2 linked regions of the Homo sapiens genome follow. The protein of the gene in region 1 interacts with the protein of each later gene in a pairwise test. Each region holds a gene or a part of one and is shown on either strand. Other genes may lie near its edges.

Region 1 (3,500 bases):
CCTGGGGTTCCTTTCCTGGAGCAGGCAGCACTGTACTGCGTGCAGGGCGGGTGAGACCGCCAGGGACACAACTGCAGAGGTGAAAGGCCGGCACTCCAAGGTCGCGGTCTGCGCTTCCGTGAAACACTTGTGGTCGAGCGAGGCCAGGCCGTGGTCTTGGTGTGGGAGTCACCAGGCTGGGTTTTCTTTTGTTTTTTGAGAGAGGGTCTCGCTGTGTCACCCAGGCTGGTATGCAGTGATGTAATCACAGCTCATTGTGGCCTCAACCTTCTGGGCTCAAGCAATCCTCCCGGCCCAGCCTCCCAAGTACCTGGGACTGTGGGTGTACTACCGTAGCCAGATAATGTTGCTTTTTTGCAAAGACAGAGTCTCGCTAAGTTGCCCAGGCTGGTCTTAACCTCCTAGGCTCAAGTGATCCTCCTGCCTTGGTCTCTCCAAGTGCTGGGATTACAGGAGTGAGTCCCTGCTATGATCCATGCTAGGGATGACCCCCCAGCCCAGGGCTGCAACCTCAGCCCACAGGGGACACTCAGCCAGAAGGCATCACCCAGGCCCTGATCCCAGGGCCTGCCCAGCGGCACTGCCCACACACACCTGGCGGGTCGTGGAAGAGGCTCACCACGCTCTTCTCCGGGGTGTTGAAGAAGGCCGCAGCCATGGAGTTGTACTCGCCATCTGCACAAAAGAGCTGTGGGGTCGGGAGAGAGCACACGTTGGGAGGGGAGATGAGCTGGTGGGCTGCAGGCACAAACCTGGTGTCGCCGTGAGAGGCCGTGTACCCTGTGCCTGGCCAGCATCAGGCGCGAAACCACACGATCCTGCCATTGGGTCAGGGCCACGGTCACAGAGGGCAAGGAGGACACACAAGGCCCAAGCCATGGTCACGGAGGGAAAGGAGGACACACACGGCCTAGGCCCAGCAGGGGGCCGTGTCTAGCCCTGGGGGGTGGGTTAGCAGGACCATGGGCTGAGACGCTGTCCATCCCTGGTGCCGGGGAAGGTGGGCCCAGGCGCTCACATGAGCTCCTAGAAGAGGCTGTTGGCGCCCCGGTGCCACAGGCCCAGAGCCTCCTGGGCTCCAGCAGCACAGGGGGTGTTATCCACGGGGCTGGAGCAGAGTGTAGCAAGGCTGGTCAACCCCATGGCCCCGGGCCTCCCACGTCTCTAACGGTTCACACCTGACCCGTCCCATCCTGCCCACTCCCGCCGTGGCACCCACTGGTCTGCTGGGCCTCTAGGCTCTCCCTGTTCTGGATGTTTCATGTTAATGGGGCTACGTCGCGTGACCTCACGTGTGGTTCCTCTGAGCGTAGTGCTTTCCAGGGCAACCGTGTCACAGTGCAGATGGACGCACGGACGGCGGTGAGCCGTGAGCGCCAGGCACAGGTCCAGTTGTGGACGGAGGTTTGCATTTCTCCTGGGTCCACATCTATGGTGCCCCCATAGGGCGCCTGAGGCTCGCCCCGTCAGGCTGCCATTCTGGGAAGAGGACTGGGGGGAGCCTCTGGCCCCCATACCACCGCCCATTCCCCTGGCACCTCAGCAGACACCTGGCCTCCTCTGAGATCTGGGTGGACAGGACTAACCCTCTTTGAGACACGCCAGCCCATGCGCTTCTGGAACTCGGCGGGGTGGGCAGCCCTCCTCCCGTAGCCTAAGCGAGCCTCCTGGAGGCCGCCCTGTGGCTGCCCTGCCTGCTGGACCCCGCCCGGGCCCAGCCTCCCACCTGCAGCGGGTAGGACATGGAGCCCCCCTGCAGGGGCTGGCAATCCCGCGACGAGTAGATCAGCACGAAGGCAACTGTGGCCGTGACGGCGGCCACCAGCACGGCCTCAATCACCTGCAGGCAGGGCCGGTGGATGTACCTGGAACCAAGAATCAGGCTGCATGGCAGGCAGGACGGCAGCGCGGCCCCTCCGCAGGCCCCATGGCAACTCGAGTCCCTGATGGAGGACACTGGGCCCGTGGTGCTTTTTGTTTGTTTGTTTTTGTTTTTGAGACGGAGTTTTGCTCTTGTTGCCCAGGCTGGAGTGCAGTGCTGCGATCTTGGCTCACTGCAACCTCCACCTCCCAGGTTCAAGCAATTGTCTTGCCTCAGCCTCCCGAGTAGCTGGGATTACAGGCGCCCGGCTCTACATCTGGCTAATTTTTTTTTGAATTTTTTAGTAGAGACGGGGTTTCTCCATGTTGGTCAAGCTGGTCTAGAACTCCCGACCTCAGGTGATCCACCCGCCTCGGCCTCCCAAAGTGCTGGGATTATAGTCGTGAGGCACCGCGCCCGGCCAGGCCTGTGTTTAATCATCAATCAGGCACCCAAATGTCCTGGGGTCGTCCTCTTCCCTGGGGTAAAGACTCCTCGGCAGCAACTTCTCCAGATGTGTGGGAAGTGGCGCTACCCGTGCCCCGGCTGTACCCGACAGTATTGAAATCAGCACAGACCAAGAAGGAAGAAGCCGGGGGGCCCCGGTGTCCCAGGACAGCTGCGGTTGCTACCAGGCAGAGCCAGGCGGTGAAGGTTGGGCATGCCTCGCCCAGGCCCGATCCCACGCAGGGCCTCACTTCCTACCCAGGGGCCGTCCTCCAGGAGCCCTCGCACTCCTAGCCTTGGGCTAGTCCGTCACCCTCCAGGCCCCGGGACACATCTCTGACCAGCTCCACCGGGGAAACCATCAGGAAGGACGCTGCATACACAGCCTTTCTTTCGGCTGTGGCCTAGGAGTGTAAACCCCATTCCACCACGTCCGCTTTCAAAGGGCCTGTGTGGCCACGCCTGCCAACGCGATATGCAATGCGGTTTCTCCTCACCTGATTCGAAACATGGTCAGCCAGTAGTTCAAGGCATTGAACACTGCTCCAAGCACACCGCCTGCGAACAGGGGAAAGGCCAGTCAGCGACACCGGAGGAAAAGTGCGGGCCTCCGCCCGCCGGCTCCCAGATGGCAGGAGAAGCTGGAGGGTTTGCAGAGGGAAGGGGACGGCAGGGGGCTAGGGGGTCCTGGTAAGATGCTTCCTCCACATCATCACACCCTGAGGGCTGGGGGAGCTGTTTCTCAAAGGCTCTGCCTTCCTTCCAGGGCAAAGGTGTCCAGCAGAGCAATAAATACTGGTGGGAGCAATTCTATCTCTTACAGGAAATCCCATCCATCCCTGCAGCCCTGTGGTTTTTGCCAACAGAGATAAACAACGGGAAGCCACAGAAGCGAAGCTTTGGGCTCCCCACTCCCCACGTGTACTGCCCATGGAAGAATCTGGAGGCCCCCGGGTGGCCCTGGGATGAGGGCAGGCTCCAGGGAGCCACAGCCTCCAGTCCTCGTCTCTATGGCCACGTCACAGCTGAGCCAGGCCCGCAGGCCGTCCCTGCGGTGCTGGGAGAAGCCCTTACCCACCACGCCCATGGCGATGAAGACCGGGATCTCGTGGATCGTGTAGGCCATTTTCTGTGCAGAGAGAGGGAGAAGGCAGAGGATGTGAGGGAAAAGGCCCACAGCTCCTTTCTGCTG
Region 2 (3,500 bases), on another chromosome or scaffold:
CCTCACATCACCCCCCACCCCTCAACACACAGGGGACCCACAGAAAAACTCAAAGGAATGGGCCTGGGCAGGGGCAGTACCTGAAGACCTGTTTGCCCCAACCAGCAATGAAGGTGAAGATGCGGGGGGGCAGGTCCCGGGACGGGTTGATGGCATATCCTGTGTTCATGCCAAGGGACACCCCGATGATGACCACGAGGATGCCTATCACCAGCGCCTCTGTTCCTGGCAGTGCTGGGTTGTTCTCCTGGTCCGTGATGGCGAAGAGACACAGCTGGAGCATCCCGGTCAGCCACGCCTGAGGAGCAGATGCTGTGGCAGCTCACCTGGGCCCCTCCCCAAGCCACAGGACCTCGGCAGTGCCCCAGACCCAAGCCCACCAGCAGAGACACGTCTCGGTACAGTCTCCATCCAGAGTTCTTGTCCTGTCTATCCGGAGGGACTCCCTGCTGGCTCCGTCCTGAGGGGTGGAGGGCAGGGGGAGGGATACTCATCCTCGACCACTGACCTCATTCAGGAAGCCCCGCCACAATGTCATGTGATCAGGAAGGTAGGTGGCAAAAATGCCAGCTGTAGCGACGGGACCGGTCACCATCAGCTGTCCACCCGAAAAGTGGAGAATGGCCGCTGCGGAGACACAGACTGTCATGCGAACCTGCTCCCAACTAAGCCCCACCGGGGTCCCAGAAATGAGGTTATAGGTTAGAGGGTGGGGGATCTCCAAGGCTTTTTTCTCCCAGCTATTTTTTACAAATCAGGACACTGAGGTCCAATCTGCCCATATTTCATAGGAGGCGGCTGAGGCCAGAGGCGGACACCCGGGCAGGATACTCACTGTAGAAGAGACTGTAGATGGTGGCAGCCGCCAGGAAGGAGCCCAGGAACTGCCCCAGCACATAGACCGGAAACTTCCTCCAGGGCACGCGGCCCAGCGCACAGTTAGCAAAGGTCACAGCTGCGTTCATGTGGGCTCCTGCGGGCAGCAGGCAAGTGTGTCAGGGAGTGAGAGCAGAACAAACAACAGTGACAAACAGTATGAGAACAACGATGGCTAGTGTGTATGACAGCATGCTCCGTGACAGAGCTCTCTCCTTGAGCCCTCACAACCACCCCGTGAGGCAGGGGCCACCATCTTCGTTTCACTCTCAAGGAAACTGAGGAACACAGAGGCGATGGCTTGCCTAAGATGACCCAGCCAGTGAAAATGGTAGGTCGGGGGGCCCAGGAAGAATCTGGGGCAAACACGTCATAGGCACGGGGTTCAGAGGAGACTTCCTCCCGCCCGGTGGCCAGGCTGAGGCACTGGCTGTGCTGGCAAAGAAGCTGGCTGAGGCGGGCAGGAAAGAGCCTGTTGGGGACACCTGGTCTTGCCCGGTCCGGCAGGGCCTGGGCTCACTCACCAGAGATGCGGCCTGCCACGTGCACTCCCATGGTGACTCCGAAGCCAAAACCCAAGTTGACACCAAGGTAGCTCCCATATTTTTTATTTAGAACCATATGGGCCACGGAACCAAGGCCGAATACCTACAAGGGAGGGCCTCTAAGGGGGCTGCCTGCCCAGAAGCCCCAACCTCAGAGGAGGGCTCAGAGCTCAGTTCTAGCTCCTCACCCCCATGCCCTGGGCCTCCCTGGCATTGCCTCGAAGACCCGCTGCCACGCCCTCTTCCTCCAGAGCCTTCCCTCCTCACTGCCTCCTCTCCTTGCCCCTGCTGAGGCCTCTCAGACCTGAGCCACTGAGAGCCGGGTGGAGCGGCAGAGTTAGAAGCTCTTACGACAAACATCCAAGCACCTCAGCCCCAGGCCCACCTGAAGTTTTGGGGTGAGGCAGGGCTGCGAGGAGGGGATGGCTGGCATGCATTGCACCCCCTCAGAGTCTCTCACACTTCAGGCTGGCCTGAAGGAAGTTTCTTCAAGGGACCTCCAAATCCATCCGTGCCTGACTCTGCCAGGAACCCCTCCCTGCACAAACACACACACACACACTCCACCGCAATTCCCACAATGCTGGAACAGTGGGGCCCTAACTGTCTTGCCCTCAGCTTCATTTCCACTGACCTCAGGCGGCATTCCCAAGCTGCTGCTTCTTGCCCATCCCTCACGGCTCCTCAGATAATGACGCCTTCACAGGGGAAGGGGCCTACCTTCAGGCCCATTAGCCTCAGTCCAGAGCCACTGTTCCCTTCAGCCCTGGCTCCTGTGCTATCCTCTCCCTCTGCAGAGGCCTCCGTCTCCCCCATACCTTCCATCCTCCCACTGATCGGCTCCCACACACTGGAGTCTCATCCTTCCCAGCAAACTGTCCCACCCCTGCCCAGCGTCCTTCTCCAGCTGTGGGTTCCTGGTTGCCTCCTCCCTGCTTCAGTCAGGCCGCAGGAGAGAACACGCTGGCCAGCTGCTTCACCCCTTCCCTCGCACCCCCTCCTCAATCTGGCTTCCACTTCCACATGTCACAGACACCAAAGCTCTCTCCAAGGGCTCCAGCAACCTCCTGATTTTCCAAAGGTCTTTTCAGGCATGGTTTTACCACGTAGACAGTCTCAGCTATGCCTGATGCGCTAAAATTCCCGTCATCTCCGCGGGGGAGCCGGATCCCTATTTGCAAATCCCCACTGGAACTCTCCTGGTGTTCCGCGGGCGTCTCAGGCTCTGTTGAAGGTTCGCCATCTCACAGCACACCTGCTCCTCACTCTATGTTCCCCATCCCCGTTGGCCGAGCCAGAAACAGATGTTGCAAATGAGAGCTTCCTCGCCATCCTCCCCAGCATCCAATCAGCTCTGCTTACATTCTCCCCAAACCTCACCCAGCCTCCTCCTTGCAGCCAGAGTGATCTTCCTAACAAAAACCCCATCGCGTCTTCCCCAGACTCACTCACTGGCTCTCCTCCACTTCTAGGATAAAGTCCAAACTCAGTAGGCCACCATTGAAGACCCTGCATAATTTCATCCTTTCTGCCTGTTTCATATCTGCCCCAATACTCTTTGTATTCAGCAATAGTATTACTACTAAATAATAATAACCATTTATTGAGCACTGCCTACATGCCAGCGAGTTATACTGATCACCTCCTTTAACCCTTAACACCAATCTTATGACTTAAGCACTATTATTCTCCCCCACTTGACAGAGGGTAATCTGAAGCTTAGAGAACTTGAATGGCTTGTCCAAGGTCACACAGCCTGTACCTGGTGAGCCAGGATTAAATCCAGGCAGTTACCTGTGCCAGATGGCCTCAAACCAAACAACTGTGCTGCTCCATGCATGCCTTGCTTTCTTGTGCCACTGTTTTGTTTGTTTGTTTGATGTTTGAGACAGGGTTTTGCTCTATCACCCAGGCTGGAGTGCAGTGCCATGATCAGGGCTCATTGCAGCCTCCATCTCCTGGGCCCAAGTGATCCTCCCACCTCAGCCTCCCAAGTAGTTGGGACTATGGGCATGTGCCTCGGCACCCAGCCAATTTTTTTTTTTTTTTTTTTTTTGAGACAGAGTCTTGCTCTGTCGC

What was found. The genes of interacting proteins can lie anywhere in the genome.
Region 2: the proteins of CLCN7 (region 1) and AQP7 interact in a two-hybrid assay, tested with the Homo sapiens proteins (one large-scale study listed by BioGRID).

What each region holds. Positions count from the first base shown.
Region 1 is NC_000016.10:1,451,029-1,454,528, forward strand, and holds part of CLCN7 (H(+)/Cl(-) exchange transporter 7), read right to left. Parts: intron 3,438-3,500; coding exon 3,383-3,437; intron 2,867-3,382; coding exon 2,806-2,866; intron 1,866-2,805; coding exon 1,727-1,865; intron 689-1,726; coding exon 595-688; intron 1-594. UniProt on the Homo sapiens protein: Slowly voltage-gated channel mediating the exchange of chloride ions against protons. Functions as antiporter and contributes to the acidification of the lysosome lumen and may be involved in maintaining lysosomal pH.
Region 2 is NC_000009.12:33,385,569-33,389,068, forward strand, and holds part of AQP7 (aquaporin-7), read right to left. Parts: intron 1,525-3,500; coding exon 1,401-1,524; intron 974-1,400; coding exon 836-973; intron 628-835; coding exon 509-627; intron 299-508; coding exon 81-298; coding exon of another isoform or gene 50-80; exon of another isoform or gene 1-49. UniProt on the Homo sapiens protein: Aquaglyceroporins form homotetrameric transmembrane channels, with each monomer independently mediating glycerol and water transport across the plasma membrane along their osmotic gradient. Could also be permeable to urea.